Linked DNA regions of Homo sapiens. Each later gene encodes a partner of the first gene's protein in a complex. Each region holds a gene or a part of one and is shown on either strand. Other genes may lie near its edges. A codon is read from its position in the direction of its gene.

Region 1 (7,000 bases):
TGACAGGCTTGATGCTGGGGGCCACAGGGCCGACTGAAACCCAGATCAAGAGAGGGCTCCACTTGCAGGCCCTGAAGCCCACCAAGCCCGGGCTCCTGCCTTCCCTCTTTAAGGGACTCAGAGAGACCCTCTCCCGCAACCTGGAACTGGGCCTCACACAGGGGAGTTTTGCCTTCATCCACAAGGATTTTGATGTCAAAGAGACTTTCTTCAATTTATCCAAGAGGTATTTTGATACAGAGTGCGTGCCTATGAATTTTCGCAATGCCTCACAGGCCAAAAGGCTCATGAATCATTACATTAACAAAGAGACTCGGGGGAAAATTCCCAAACTGTTTGATGAGATTAATCCTGAAACCAAATTAATTCTTGTGGATTACATCTTGTTCAAAGGTACTTTGATAATGTTCTGCTCTCCCAAGGCCACAGGGCCCTACGATTGTCTCTCCCTTTCCTTTCGTTAGGCCAGCATATGATTAACGCTACGTGATTTTCTATGAATGTGTTTTCACGTTTCAAAAACAGATTGATACACATATTGAACAGTGCCAGACGCTGTCATTTGAGGCCCTTCCCTGGTATCCTATGTGCTTGTAGTCCTTATTATTTTCAGAGCACTCTACATAGCTCCCCTCTGACACTTAGAAGCATAGGGTCTTTCCAAAAAACAGGGGGCTGGGGGATTATCTGGGGGATTTAGGATTGCATCATTGCTCCTTCATTTTTACTTTTTGACCAACTCTCTGCCCTTAGATTCCTATTATAGAAAATAGGGACACTCCACCTACTACAGTGTTAGAGGCTAAATGAGACAATGAATGTAAAGTGCCCAGATGGGCTTGGCACATAGCAGACACTGAGTATCTATTGTTTACTTGTTCTTCCAAACTGCCAATCAGCAGGTAGAGCAGGAGTTGTCTCCTTTCTAAAGATGAAACCAGCTCAGAGACGTTAGCTTGATCAAGGTCACACAGTAAGTGGCAGAGGCAAAACCCAAACAAGGGCCTCCTGACCCCCTGATCCTAGGTTCTGTCCAGCCCTGCCTCCCTAATGGGGCACTGGACGTGGGTTGGATGCCACTTTCGCAGAGCTGGCACCAGACTTACAAAGCCCCGGCAGGGGAAGCCACTTTACAACCAGCCAGGCCACACCCCCAGGGCAGACGTTTATGTAGAGAGTAATGTACCTGCCTGCTAGTAGCCTCTGCATTGTGGGGCCTTCTCTCAGAACCACACTAAACAGTGGGTGGGTGAGAAGTGTCACTCCTGCCACCTTGGACTCTGCATGTGCTTGTGCCTGGTGTGAATGAGACAAAGTGGCAGTCAGAGGTGCCAGGCAAAGGCTTTTCTCTAAGCTGGAGCCAACTATGAGGGAACGACTGTGAATTCCGTTCAGGTCCAGGACAATGAGAGGAGCCAGGGATTGTTAGGAAACATTTCCCTGCTTTCGTGTGCGATTCCCAATAGGGCCTGCGAGTGGAGCTGCATTTTGCTAGCTGGGCTAGAGGACGGGGAAAATTTTGGGGAAATTTATTTTGCCTGCCTGAGCTGTGGAAAAGCCAACCCAATTAGGGAACGCCTTTCCTAGTTGGAACGAGAAGACGAGAAGTGAGAGAAGTGAGATAGAAGGCTCCCTCTCTATTATTTGAGCAAGAACAATGCTTTTCAAAGAGGGAATTTCTGCAATGAGTTCTTCTCTTACTTGTTCAGGGAAATGGTTGACCCCATTTGACCCTGTCTTCACCGAAGTCGACACTTTCCACCTGGACAAGTACAAGACCATTAAGGTGCCCATGATGTACGGTGCAGGCAAGTTTGCCTCCACCTTTGACAAGAATTTTCGTTGTCATGTCCTCAAACTGCCCTACCAAGGAAATGCCACCATGCTGGTGGTCCTCATGGAGAAAATGGGTGACCACCTCGCCCTTGAAGACTACCTGACCACAGACTTGGTGGAGACATGGCTCAGAAACATGAAAACCAGGTACAACTCTTGCCCACACCCTATACAAACTCTACCTTTCTGTACTGGCAAACGCTCAGCACAATTTCATTGAATGCACCGTGATTTAATGTCTCCTCCAGTGAGCTATAAGTTTCCTGAAGGCAGGGCAGCATTTGTCTTTTTTTCCACTCTATCCCCAGCATCTGTCACAGGGTGCCTGGCTGATTCATTCATTGAGTCCATCAGTATTTTACGTTCTGCGACTGTGATAAATATATGATGCCAGGGATCCATCAGCAAACAAAACAGGCAAAATTAGTCTGCCCTCATGCAGCTTACATTCTATTGAAGGAAGACAAAGAGTAAATTAAAAATAGGTAATAATGCAGGGAAGGGGACAAGAAGCATCATCAGGATGCAGATGGAGGTTAGACAAGGCCTCTCCAAGAAGGTAACAGTAAGCAAACATCTGAAGATGAAGGATAAACCATGTGGATATATTCGGGGAGAGAAGTGTTATGTTACAGGCAGAAGTGTACAAGTTCTGGGATGGGAGTGTACCTGGTGGGTTTGAAGAACATCAAGGAGACAAGTGTGGCTTCAGCAGTTGGAGATAAAATCAGAGAGGAAACAGGGGCCCAGTCCCCAGAAAAGACTTGGGCTTTCCTGAGAGAGGCAGGAAGCCACTGGATGGTTCTGAGTAGAGGAGCAACCTGATTTTGACTTCTGTTTTTAAAGGATCACATAAGCTCCTGTGTTGAGAAAAGACACTAGGGGGTAAGGATGGAAGCAAGGGAGAGTGGTTAGAAAGTTACTAGCAATCCAGGTAGAGATGCTGCTACCTGGACTGCGGTGGTGGTAGTGGAAGTGGTGAGAAGTGGCTGGATTCTGGATCTATTAGGAAGTGCAGGATCTGCTAATCGATTGGATGTGGGTGAGAGAGGTGTCAAAGGTGATCACAAAGTTTTTGGCCTTAGCAACTGGAAAGACGGATTTGCCATTTACTGAAAGGGGGAGGAACAGGTCTGGGGTAAGTGCAGAAGTTCAGTCTTAAACACTTGGATCAGAAATATCTATTAGACATCCAAGTTGAGATGTCAAGACGACAGGTGGATCTGGAGTCTAGGGTGAGGTCCAGGCCGGAGATATAAATTCGGTCATCAACACAGAACTAGAATCTAGACACATGACAGGGTTGGGGTCTGTAAATATAGAGGAGAGGAAAAGAAAGCACAGAGTGGGCACTGAAATGTCTGCCCAATAAATTAATCCACCTATTGGAGTACAAGGAAAATGGCTGCAATACGAATTCCATGGCTATGGCTTCTGAATCCTGTGACTCAGATTTTGGCAGACAAGTGCAGCTAAAGGTCCCCAGGGTTAGTTTTATCTTCATTATTCTTCTTTCATTTTTCTTCATATCTTTAGCACCTAACAATGAACCCCAAACATCATAAGCCCTCAAGTAATGTTTGCTGAATGAATAACTTTTTAAATTAATCTTCAAGACACGTCATGTCCTCAATTATTTTTAAATAAATAAAAAAATTTTATTTTGAGCCACAGAACTCATCTTTTCAAGCAACATATTTTCAAAGGAGGACTCCAGTATACAAAATAGATGGTATCAGAGCTTCTCTGGCTAAAGACGGGTAGGGGTTGAAAGTTTTCTTTGCTCCCCTCCCCATCCATCCCCAGACTCCTCGGGTCTGCAGAATCCAGGAGCTGAAAACAGCCATCATCCAGGAGGCTGCAGGACTGCTGAAAGCAGCTGTTAACTCAGGTTTTTTTTAAAATATAGGGAAATGAACACATAAGTACTTTGCTAAAGAAAACGTGAGTCACTGGCTGAGGAATAAAACTCATTCACTGAAGCTGAAGTACTATTTGATAAGCTAGAAATATTTTCCCTGAGTAGACCACTGTAAAAGAATGGCATGAACTACATAGTCAACTGAAAGACTCATTAATGGAAATAATCTTAAAGAACAAAAATTGTGACCTTTTTGGTGTCCACAGACTAGGGCTTTGTCTACATTTCACCATCATCTGTTCTTGTACCACAGAAACATGGAAGTTTTCTTTCCGAAGTTCAAGCTAGATCAGAAGTATGAGATGCATGAGCTGCTTAGGCAGATGGGAATCAGAAGAATCTTCTCACCCTTTGCTGACCTTAGTGAACTCTCAGCTACTGGAAGAAATCTCCAAGTATCCAGGGTAAGTCAGGATCTTTCATCAGAGCCCAACCTCAGCATGAAATGTCACCAAAACAAATGCTTTTACAAACCATTTAACTTTGATAAAATACCTAATTGTAGTGGAAAATTAGATTTAAGTCCCAAATACTTGAAATAGCACCCAGGTTGGATGTTTTAAGAATTTCAAGCAACTTCATTAAAATAACTTTTCAACTAATTTATTTTAAGCAGACCTCTCCCCCTCTGCTTAAAGTGCTCAGGGAGAAATTTGACCCTGAAATAGAACTGGTTTACAGAGGCATCATCATTTATGTTGAATACAACTTGAATAGTTCATGAAATTACACCACCTTTACAATGAAACAAACCCCTAGACATCATCTAGCCCAACTTCTCCCTCCTTGTGGAAATCCCCTCCATAGCCCTACGAAATAGCCCTCCAACTTCTCTTCCTCTTCATGCTTCCAGTGACATCAAACTCACCATTTCTTTGAAGAGCTGCCCAATCCACAAATAGCTAAAATTGTTATATGTATATATATATATGTGTGTATATATATGTATATATGTATGTGTGTATAAATGTATATGTGTGTATATGTGTGTGTGTATATATATATACACACACATATATATATATATGGAGAGAGACATACATATATATATGGAGAGAGAGAGAGAGAGAGTCCTGTAACTTCTGATTCATACTTTTTGGTCCTAGTTCTATCTCTAAAACTTCTAAGAACAAGTTTAGTCACCATCCACATAGAATCCCTTCAGTTACTCAGTGTTTCTCAGTGGAAGGGTTCTTGGTTTTGAGGGGAACTGCTTGTTGTCCAGAGCAGTTGTGCATGTTGCAGGGAACTGGTTAGCATTGCTGGCCCATGTTCACTAATGCCAGTAGGAAACTCCAGTCATCACTATAAAAATGCTCCCACACATTTCCAAATGGCAGCTACATCTCTCTACATTCTTCCTTAGCTGTGTGGTTTAATATTTTCTTATACAATTGCAATTTTCAATTCCAAGAGAGACTAAAAATGGCATCCACTTAAGTAGGACACAGTAGGGTAACTGTGGCCTGGAATCAGGTCTTACAACCTCAAGAGAGGTAAGACAATTAAATAAAACAATCCGTCAGACCAGCACCTGAAAGTGTTTCTGCTATGAACACATGAAAAACTGAAATGCGCTGCTGCTTTATGAAGGGTCATCATGAAATTTAAACTGTAAATGATTAAATATTCTCCCTCTGTTTGCTCTGGGGAATTAATTTTCCTCTAGGAAATCAGGGAATTTCCTGGAGTGAAAATCAGTGTAATTACATGTTATGTTTTCATTATCTCTTATAACACAGTAATTATATAGGTACATCACTCATATCACATCTTGTTTCTGTAAAAAAGGGCCTCCCAAACATAGCAAGCAGCCACAGTATAGGCAGCCAGAATTCAGGAAGGCTCCAGGGACCCCTGGGCTTGGCCCAGAAAAATGCCTCAGAGTAGTACCAGGTGCTGGGAAGCTGCTACAGAAGACTAGCCATTCCCTGCCTCCACCTTGCCTGCCAAAAGGAAAGTCAGAGGACTCAAGGGATCCAGGGATCAAGGGATCCAGGCAGCTTGAAAACCTTTTAGGAGCACCAGCTCAGCTCAAGAATTAGTAGCATAAATTACATGCTCAATAAAGATTTGATGCATGAGTGCATCCTGAGTCCATGCCCGGAATGTGTTTCACATATTCCACAATACTTCACATTGGGTTCCTGAGGTCTCCTGGTATTGTTTAAGACTCCTGTGGCAGTCCCTGGTGCAACCCCAGACCACTCCTCTTAACGTAGATGGGCCTGCTCCACTAAATCCCAGGAGCATGACCCCATGGGTAGGACCACTGTGAAGAATTTCAAGGGGCTCATTTAATTCCTCCTTTGCACTGCCACACAAATGGTTTTTCACATTATTTCCTTTTTCCAGGTTTTACAAAGAACAGTGATTGAAGTTGATGAAAGGGGCACTGAGGCAGTGGCAGGAATCTTGTCAGAAATTACTGCTTATTCCATGCCTCCTGTCATCAAAGTGGACCGGCCATTTCATTTCATGATCTATGAAGAAACCTCTGGAATGCTTCTGTTTCTGGGCAGGGTGGTGAATCCGACTCTCCTATAATTCAGGACACGCATAAGCACTTCGTGCTGTAGTAGATGCTGAATCTGAGGTATCAAACACACACAGGATACCAGCAATGGATGGCAGGGGAGAGTGTTCCTTTTGTTCTTAACTAGTTTAGGGTGTTCTCAAATAAATACAGTAGTCCCCACTTATCTGAGGGGGATACATTCAAAGACCCCCAGCAGATGCCTGAAACGGTGGACAGTGCTGAACCTTATATATATTTTTTCCTACACATACATACCTATGATAAAGTTTAATTTATAAATTAGGCACAGTAAGAGATTAACAATAATAACAACATTAAGTAAAATGAGTTACTTGAATGCAAGCACTGCAATACCATAACAGTCAAACTGATTATAGAGAAGGCTACTAAGTGACTCATGGGCGAGGAGCATAGACAGTGTGGAGACATTGGGCAAGGGGAGAATTCACATCCTGGGTGGGACAGAGCAGGACAATGCAAGATTCCATCCCACTACTCAGAATGGCATGCTGCTTAAGACTTTTAGATTGTTTATTTCTGGAATTTTTCATTTAATGTTTTTGGACCATGGTTGACCATGGTTAACTGAGACTGCAGAAAGCAAAACCATGGATAAGGGAGGACTACTACAAAAGCATTAAATTGATACATATTTTTTAAGATGTTTGTGCAATCTGTCTGGTATTTTAAGCTTGTTTCTAAGA
Region 2 (8,991 bases), on another chromosome or scaffold:
TGAGCAGGAGGAGGATGTGGGGACGTGGCAGGGACGGGGACCTGAGCAGGAGGAGGATGGGGGGAGGTGGCAGGGACGAGGACCTGAGCAGGAGGAGGATGTGGGGACGTGGCAGGGACGGGGACCTGAGCAGGAGGAGGATGTGAGGAGGTGGCAGGGACGAGGACCTGAGCAGGAGGAGGATGTGGGGAGGTGGCAGGGACGGGGACCTGAGCAGGAGGAGGATGGGGGGAGGTGGCAGGGACGGGGACCTGAGCAGGAGGAGGATGTGGGGACGTGGCAGGGACGGGGACCTGAGCAGGAGGAGGATGGGGGGACGTGGCAGGGACGGGGACCTGAGCAGGAGGAGGATGTGAGGAGGTGGCAGGGACGGGGACCTGAGCAGGAGGAGGACGGGGGGGCAGGGGGTGGCAGGAATGGGGACTGAGCCTGCTCATGCTGCTCCCCATGCCATCGCCTGGCCCCCAGGACGCTCCCCGCTCCGGATGTAAGGCCTGGCTGCCAGTGCCTCCCACTCTGCTGGGTGCCCTTTCTTCGTCCGCACGCGGTCCCCTCTGTCCCGCCCCATCAGCCCTTCTCCGGCCTTCCCTGCCTCTCCCGCTTCCTTCTGTGCCCAGTTGTCCCCGTGCTTGTCTGGTGGTGGCTGCAGCTCTTTGCTTACTCATTCCCAGGTGGGTCCTTACCCTGGCCTCCCCCAGCCCCGTGGGTCTCCATCTGTGTTACTTCTGTCCCATGCTCTTCTGCAGTTGCCCACCTAGAGCTCCTCCCTTGGGAGGAGTCTCCTAACCAAAGTCTCCATCGGGGCCATGACTTTCCAAAATTTGAGACGAGTTCTGACCCTGCTGCAGCATGAGGCTTCCCAGGAGCCCAGGAGCCAGGCGGCTGGAGGAGCTGCTCTGGGGGGGCCCTCCTGGCCTGTGGCCCATGTCCCAGAGTGCCAAGAAACTACCCAGACACTGGGCAAGACAAACCAGGCACTGCCTGTGGCCCTGGTGGCAGAGCCCGGGGGCTTCCTGACCTGGTCCTTGGGGAGAGTCGGAGCTGCCCTTCCCTGGAGAGACACCGTGGGTCCTGGAGCCAGAGGCTTGGCATCCGCTGAGCTGGGGTCGTGAAGCGTCCTAAGCCCACCCACGCACCTCATCCCGAGGAATTAATACTTCTGAGGAGACGAAGGAAACCACTTACCCTTATATCGTCTCCAGAATTCATCCTTTAGAGTTAAAACATAAAAATGTTACAAATGGGATATTTGTTTTTCTATATTCTTTCCTGTAGATGAACTTGAAGGTAAGAAAATGTTGATTTTATTCACTTAATAGGACAATAGTGGTTGAAACAATGCACAATTTTCCTGTTTTACAGCCTATTTGTTTATGTTAAATGTATAGTAACTAAATGTATCTGTAAGATATATTACTCAACATGTGCTTACCACCACCTATTTGAGGAAGGCCAGAGTCTATGACATGGCACAAACCCACCACCCACAGCCCCTAACGTGGCCCTTCCCTTCTAGGGCCAATCTCCACGCCACCCTCCACAAAAGCACATGATATAGAAGTCACATCACCTTTTCGCTTTTTATAAACCGAGTTGAATTTTAAAGATATATACCTCTGTAGGGAGTGGGGACACTTAGTTTGGGGTAGGAGTATCTAAAATTAGGAGAATTATTCAGACTTGAAGCCTAGAAAGAAAATGTATGCTGGGTGTCTGATCAGTGTGTGGGCCTTGCCTGACCTGAAGAAATGAGTCCAGTGGGCTCTGAGCTGACTTCCAGCCCCACTCACTGCTGTAGGGAAAGGTGGATTAAGTCGATTCTCTAAATTGTTTCCTCATCTGTAAAACTGGGATTGTGTCAACCTCATCGGTAAGTAAATAGGCTAATTAATTAAGCTTAATCTCTGAGAAATGATGCTCCCTGGGCCAGCAGAAGTCTAAATAATGAGGAGGCCTGTGGTTTGTGGTGGGGGTACATACAGTGACTACTTCATTTTCAAACACTTCTCTTGCTTCTTCATAGACACAGATTTCTTCATAACATTCTTTTTCCAAGTTTCCCTCGAAGAGTTCTTCCAGAAGATAGGAGCCCGCACGCTTCCACCTCACCAGAACGTCGTTTGCTTTGGAGGCCGGGAGAAATACTACAGACGAGACAAGAAGGCAGGTGACTGGGAGCACCGAGGGCCCTGCTTTCCAGAGCTGCCTGGCTTCCTCCCCGGCCGGCCGCCAGCCCCAGCCCCGTCCGTCTCCACAGGCTCTCAGCCTGCGAGGGCCTCAGGGCCACCCCGCTACTCCCTCCCCCGAGGTAGGCAAGCACTTCATCCTCTGGGCGAATGGATCAGCCCCAGGATCAGTGCGGATACACTAAGGTTCTGCAGAGAGGCCACGGGCCTCAGTCAGGAAAGTGGAGGAGGGAGGGCTCCAACTGGGTTTTGGGTCTGAGTGCGAAGGAAGGCTGAGCTGGGGTCAAAGGTCCCCGTACTGAGAACTGGGGACCAAGAGCCATCAGCTCCTGTGCTGCCTCTGTGCGCAGCATTTAACATCTTGATAAAACACATAAAGAAGAAACTTATACATTGCAGCAGGCTCTGCGATTTCCAGGAGGAGAAGGCAAATGAGTTGACCCGCGGCAGTGGTCTCTGGAGCCTCTTCCCACCTGAGGGTCCCAAAGCATGTTCTCTCCCTCTCCGGGAGGGTCAAAGCCCAGGCCCTTCCCATCCTCCCTCCTTTTCTCTCGGTGCTGAGGGTTACAGCAGGGGGGGCTCAGCTAAGTCCGGCTACGGTAAGTGCTGGGCAGGGCAGGGCGGGGGGATCACCCTCTCAGGGTGGGAGACCATGGGGCCAGCGGGAGACCATGGGGCCAGCGGGGATGCTGGGTGTTTTGACTTGCAGCTTTCCTGGACGCCTGTGCAGGCAGAGTCAGAATGGAGTCCATGTCGTTCCTTCAGTGAAGTGGCTGGTGGTAGAAGGGTGGCAGGCAGGCAGGGTGGCTGCTCCCTGGCTATGTCTCCTGACTCAAGACTGGGCATTCCTGGCTGGCCTGGCCAAGGCTCTCTCTGCCCACATTGCAGTCTGGGCTCAGCCTGCCCCACCCCCTCCCCTCGTCCAATGCCCAACCCAGGCCTCCCCCCACTCCTCCCCCTTTCCCCCTCCCCTCTCCCCGGCCTTTCCCGGCTGAATCCCCTGCACACAGGCTTCTTTCCATTTGGGCATCTCTTGGGAGGACCCCAAGTGACACTATCATGTCCCAAATACTTGTCACCAAATGATAAAGATCCAAACAGCTTTTTCAGGGGAATTAAGACTAGTCTGGGCACTCAGGGCTCCTCTGGCTCCTGGAAAAAGCCTCATCTACAAATCCACCATGGACCGAGTCAAGAAAGACACAGCACAGGCACAACAGACAGGTAAGCCAGATGCCTACCTGAGGGCTCCACACGATGGAGGGCGAGGACCAGGACCAGGCCCTGGAGCAGTGGGACGCAGCCTGCCATTCCCACCCGGAGCGCTGGGACAGGGCTACAAACACAGCCAAAGTCCAGGCTGGGGGAGGTGCCGGCAGCAGGAGCCTCGGGGCACGACCTGTGCAGCTGTGTGCTTCCCTCCTGACGTTTTCTGTTTGAGGCCAGGCAGAGAAATGAACGGTGAAGGCTCAGAGGACCCTGGGAGATATTTAGGGAGACAGAGAACAGAAGGTAAAGGCAGCAGGTGCAAGGTGGAAGGTGGCACCCATGCCCGTGTGTGGTCAATGGAGGTGAGATAGGCCCTGGGGACACAGCACTGGGCGGGACAGACAAAGTCACATGCAGCTTACGTTCTAGGTGTGTGTGGAATACACAGAAAAGAACGAGGGAAAGAGACAGGAGGGAGTGAGGGAGGGAAAGCAGGAGGATGGAAAGAAGGAAGGGGAGAAAAGGAAGGGAGGGAGGGAGGAGGGAGAAAGCGGGGAAGGGCCAAATAGTGTCTGTCACTACAGCTCAGCACCATTGTAGCAGAGGCAGCATAGACAATCATGAATGAACACTTGGCTGTGTGCCAATAAAGCTTTATTTATAAGAGCTATTAAGGGGCCAGATTTGGCCCCAGGGTTGTCGTTTGCTGCTTTCAGATGTAGGCCCTGTGTATTAGTCCCTTCTTACACTGTTATGAAGAAATAGCCAAGACTGGGTAATTTAAGAAAAGAGGTTTAGTTGACTCCCAGTTCCACATGGCTGGGGAGGCCTCAGGAAACTTATAATTATGGCAGAAGGCACCTCTTCACAGGGTGGCAGCAGAGAGAATGACTGAAGCAGGGGAAATGCCAGATCCTTATAAAACCATCAAATCTCTTGAGACTCACTCACTATCCCAAGAATAGCATGGTGGAAACCACCCCCATGATTCAATTACCTCCCACCGGGTCCCTCCCAGGACACGTGGGGACTATGGGGATTACAATTCAAGATAAGATTTCGGTGGGGACACAGCCAAACCATATCAGCCCTTGAAGCCTGAGGTAAGAACCTGGTGTTTCATTTTCACTGTGTTGGGAAGATATTGGAGGGAACAGGAATTGACATGGAAAGATTTGTGCTCTGAAGGGATCACTGGGCTGCTGTGTGGAGAACAGAACATTCCAGAGAAGTCAAAAGGGAGGCTGCCGGCTAGTCCAGGAGGGGGTGAGGGTGCAGCCATGCAGCAGGAAGCACGTTTGCAGTCTGGATGCTTCAGGAAGGGAAAGCTGATGGGATTCATGATGAATTGTGTCGGGCAGCACGGCTCCAAGGTTTGGGCTGAGCGATTGGGAGGATGGCAGTGCGTGTGCTGAGACGGCCAAGCTCCAGGAGGGCAGAGGGAAGCGAGGTTTGGCAAATTTGAGGTGTCTGTGGGATGTCCAGGTGGAGACAGGAGTGGGCATCCGAGAAGCTGGGACTCACAGTGGAGATTCAGGTGGTAACAGATGAAATGACAGCATTGTCAGCATATAGATATTGTTCGATTGAATGACACTCAAAGGTGGCAAAACTCAATGAAAGGATTCTAAATACAATTTTGTTAAAGTGGGAACAGAAGAAAACTAAGAAGCTGACACCCTTGATTAAGAGGGCATGCCCGCAAATACACTGAAGTTGTGAAGTTTGCTTTAAAAAGCTGGGAAAAGAAAATAAAGTTTATCTTTAGTGAGTGAGTTAAAATAATTTGAAAGCCAGAAGTTGATTGTATAGGATAGCTCTTGGGTGAATTGCACCAGCCTGGCAATCTACGTGGCCTTCACTTAAGAAAAGGTGCCTTTTTTTGTGTGAAAATGTATTCCCACATGGAAATTTACATTAAAAATACTTCTGCTGGATAGTTTAAAAACCATCAATAGCTGCCTAAAAATGGAAAGGCAGACAGGGACATACACATTCGATCAATAAGTGTTAATTAAGCACATCCTATATGCCTGACATGGGTATCTGAGCTACAACCTCTTCCCTCATGGACCATTTTAGTCTGTTGGGGCTGCTGTAACAAAACACCTTAGAGTGGGTAATTTACGATAAACAGAAACGTAGTGCTCACAGTTCTGGAGGATGGGAAGTCCAAGATCAAGGCTCCAGTAGACTCAGTGTCTGGTGACGGCCCATGATTCATAGACGTGTCCTTGGATGGTGGAAGGGAGGAATGTGGGTGCTCCCTGGAGCCTCTTTTGGGAGGGCAGTCATCCATCCATGAAGGCAGAGTGCCTCCCAGAGGCCCCACCTCCTAGTACTATTGCACAGGGGGTTAGGTTTCAACGTGAGTTTTGGGGGATGGTTTGGCTCTGTGTCCCCAACCAAATCTCACCTTGAATTGTAATAATCCCCACAGGTCAAGGGCAGGACCAGGTGGAGGTGATTGAATCATGGAGGTGGTTCTTGTGATAGTGAGTGCATTCTCACAAGAGCTAATGATTTTATAAGGGGCTTCCCCCTGTGATTGACACACATTTTCTCTCTCCTGCCACCCTGTGAAGAGGTGCCTGCTTGCCATGATTATGTTTCCTGAGGCCTCCCCAGCCATGTGGAACTGTGAGTTCATTAAACCGCTTTTCTTTATAAATTACCTAGTCTCAAGTATTTCTTCACAGTGACATGAGAACAGACTAATACAGGAAGGCATCAACATCGAGGCCACAGCTGTGATTGACTGTGTTGTACGTGGACTGACCGTGTTGTATGTGGTGATTTAATTTTCTCATCTGCCTTCTCAAAGATACCACCTTTGGACCAAAAATTCTACAATAATAAATTGTCCAAACATTAAGATTCACCTCGTTCTACTCATCTTCCTCATCTCTCATATGAATAATCGTTCTTCTGTCACCCTCTTCTGTTCTGAAAAACAAACCAACCAACATTGGGACACTTTTTCCATTGACTGGTTTACTTTCCTTCTGTATACCTGAGGAGAATCTTCCTTCCTTTGGGGTCTTTGTCGTGTCCTTCAGATGTTGGGGTGTCCTCTGTGGGGGTCCCCAGCTTAAATCAACTGACCCCACAACTTTGTGTGGAACCTGAAATGAGCAGCCTATGGAGAACCTGGTCATTGAATACTTAGATCTTGCCGCAGTCCCTATTTAAATACCTGTTCAATCAACTCTGGGACCTATGTTTTAGATTTCAACATCTCTGAATTGGCCTGTTCCCTACAGCCAATGTTCTAATGTCAGCCTGGACAAGGCCGAGTTCTTCCTGAAAGGGGTTGTGCTTTATGTTGCCCCCTGGGGGCACTGCCACTTTGCAATCCCTTTAAATACATTTTTTTGTGTGAGTTTTGGGAGCCCATGTGAATAGTGTAAATGTATTGCAAAGCTGGTTCCTGGCTGGCCTGTGGTTTAGATTATCTGAGCTTCCCCCTCTTGCCTCCAGGCTGAGCTGACCCACAGCTAATTTGGGTATATGCTCTTTCTTTCAGGTTCATCAATAATGGTGCGTCTTAGATTCACAGAGTAGAGTGTGGTCTAGTCCACTTTGTGGTGCTGTAACAGGATATCTGAGACTGGGTAATTTATAAAGAACAGAAATTTATTTCTTACAGTTCTGGAGGCTGGGACATCAAAGGTCCAGGGGCCCCCATCTGGCGAGGGCCTTCTTGCTGCGTCATCCCATGGTGGAAGGTGGATGCGCGTGAGAGAGAGAGAGAGAGAGAGAGAGAGAGAGAGAAAGGGGAGAGAGGAAGGGGGCCAAACTCATCCTTTTATTCCAAAATAACGAACCCACTCCTACAATAGTGGTATCAATTCATTCACGTGGGCTCTGACAATGAATGCGTCTTAAAGGTCCCACCTCTCAACACTGTTGCCTTGGGATTAAGTTTCCAACACGTGCACTATAGGGACACATTCAAACCACAGCATGCTGCATCCTCTGATGTCCACATTGTGGATGGAGGTGGCAGCTTATCACCTGGAGCTCCTGAAGAAATTAAAGAGGAGACACATGGTGACGCAGCCCACAGCCTGGCGTTTTTAGCATCTCAGAAGCACTGACAGGGACCCGCAAGCTTATGAGAAACTGTTCAACTCATTGGGCTTCCTCAGAGCTTGGGAGACCATTAATGTGGAAGACACTATCTGGACATGTTTCTCTTTTTTCCACCTGTCTAGATTTTCTTTCAGGATCGGGGAGACTTCTGGAGTAGAAAAGCCACTCCAGAACCCTTCCTCCTCCTCCCCCACACCCCGCCTCATGAGCGGCTGCCCTCCGCGTGGCATGGAGTCCCCGCGTCCACTCAGAACCCTTCCTCCTCCTCCCCCGCGCCCCGCCTCCCCCGCGCCCCGCCTCCCCCGCGCCCCGCCTCCCCCGCGCCCCGCCTCCCCCGCGCCCCGCCTCCCCCGCGCCCCGCCTCCCCCGCGCCCTGCGTCACGTGCCCCTGCCCTCCCCGACGCCCCGCCCCCCACGCCCCTCCTCCCCCACGGCCCGCCCCCCCACGCCCCTCCTCCCCCACGGCCCGCCCCCCCACGCCCCTCCTCCCCCGCGCCCCGCCTCCCCCGCGCCCCGCCTCCCCCACGCCCTGCGTCACGTGCCCCTGCCCTCCCCCACGCCCCGCCCCCCACGCCCCGCCCCCACGCCCCGCCTCCCCCACGCCCCGCCCCCCGCGCCCCGCCTCCTCCACGCCCCGCCTCCCCCACGCCCTGCGTCACGTGCCCCTGCCCTCCGCGCAGCATGGAGTCCCTGCGTCCCGGCTCCACGGTGCGGGAGTCCTCCGTGGTGGCTGAATTCGCCTTTCAGGCCCTATGTTCAGGATTTGTGATCTGGGTTTTAAAAACATTTTTTAGAAGTCATTGGTAATTAAAAACAATAAGTTTTTTATTGTGGTAAAATAGACATACAGTTTACCGCAGGAATCTTTTTTTAAGCGTACAGTTGGCTGACCCTGAGTGAATTCGCTGTTGATAATCTGCTTCTCCCTGAGCTGCTGTCGCCCACACTCGCCGCTGGCCGTGCTTGTTTTTCTCCTGGAACTGGGGCCGGTGTCCCTGTTGACCTTGTCCCGGGTAGCTGAGCCCAGGGGACTCTCCTTCCTAGGGTTACCGCTCAGTATCAGCACAGCCACAACGTCCAGCCAGGGAGGGCATCCGAGGCCCTCAGCACCCACCCCGGGGGTCCGGCCCGCGTCAGGCTGCGAGTTCCCGAGTCCCTGGACCCAGCTGTGCCTGCTGGGGTCAGCGCAGTCTGTGAGCCTCGACCCCCAGCTCCCAGCAAGGCCTCCCAGCAAGGCCTGTCGGAACCCAGCGGAGACCGGCGGCTGGGGCTTGTCCTCGAGCGGGGGCGCAGGACACGGGGCGCGGGGCTCCTGCCCTTGCAGCGTCCTGTCAGGATGGACGACCCAAGCCAGACGGCGCTCCCTCCCGCCACACCTGGCCGTACTGGCCTCCAGCCATGCCGGTGCTGCCGAGGCCCCCGTGTGGGACAGGCCCCCGCTCCCGCCCGTCCTCCTGGCTGCATCTGCACCCGCCCGTACCCGCACCGGGCCTCACTGGCC

Evidence for each region.
Region 2: the proteins of SERPINA10 (region 1) and PROZ are in contact, whole or in part, in a crystal structure (PDB 3H5C), measured with the Homo sapiens proteins. Residues at the interface, in NP_001094077.1 of Homo sapiens: Arg88, Lys89, Ser91, Met92, His94, Asp95, His257 (codon at 1,760), Asp259 (codon at 1,766), Lys260 (codon at 1,769), Tyr261 (codon at 1,772), Asn282 (codon at 1,835), Phe283 (codon at 1,838), Lys305 (codon at 1,904), Met306 (codon at 1,907), Asp308 (codon at 1,913), His309 (codon at 1,916), Leu310 (codon at 1,919), Ala311 (codon at 1,922), Leu312 (codon at 1,925), Asp314 (codon at 1,931), Tyr315 (codon at 1,934), Leu316 (codon at 1,937); in NP_003882.1 of Homo sapiens: Cys129, Pro131, Cys141, Leu142, Pro143, Ser151, His250, Met251, Arg252, Asp254, Ala257, Glu259, Asn260, Glu284, Lys285, Asp286, Phe287, His290, Leu291, Thr336, Thr337, Arg338, Arg390, Ser392, Leu393, Trp394, Gln397.

Annotation. Positions count from the first base shown.
Region 1 is NC_000014.9:94,283,269-94,290,268, reverse strand, and holds part of SERPINA10 (protein Z-dependent protease inhibitor precursor), read left to right. Parts: coding exon 1-393; intron 394-1,709; coding exon 1,710-1,983; intron 1,984-4,010; coding exon 4,011-4,161; intron 4,162-6,112; coding exon 6,113-6,304; 3' UTR 6,305-7,000. UniProt on the Homo sapiens protein: Inhibits activity of the coagulation protease factor Xa in the presence of PROZ, calcium and phospholipids. Also inhibits factor XIa in the absence of cofactors.
Region 2 is NC_000013.11:113,153,167-113,162,157, reverse strand, and holds the start of PROZ (vitamin K-dependent protein Z isoform 2 precursor), read right to left. Parts: upstream 3,511-8,991; 5' UTR 3,498-3,510; coding exon 3,428-3,497; intron 2,960-3,427; coding exon of another isoform or gene 2,894-2,959; intron 2,145-2,893; coding exon 1,981-2,144; intron 1,211-1,980; coding exon 1,186-1,210; intron 1-1,185. Other genes in the region: F10-AS2 (WAS/WASL-interacting protein family member 2-like), read left to right, coding at 8,172-8,244, 8,388-8,991. UniProt on the Homo sapiens protein: Appears to assist hemostasis by binding thrombin and promoting its association with phospholipid vesicles. Inhibits activity of the coagulation protease factor Xa in the presence of SERPINA10, calcium and phospholipids.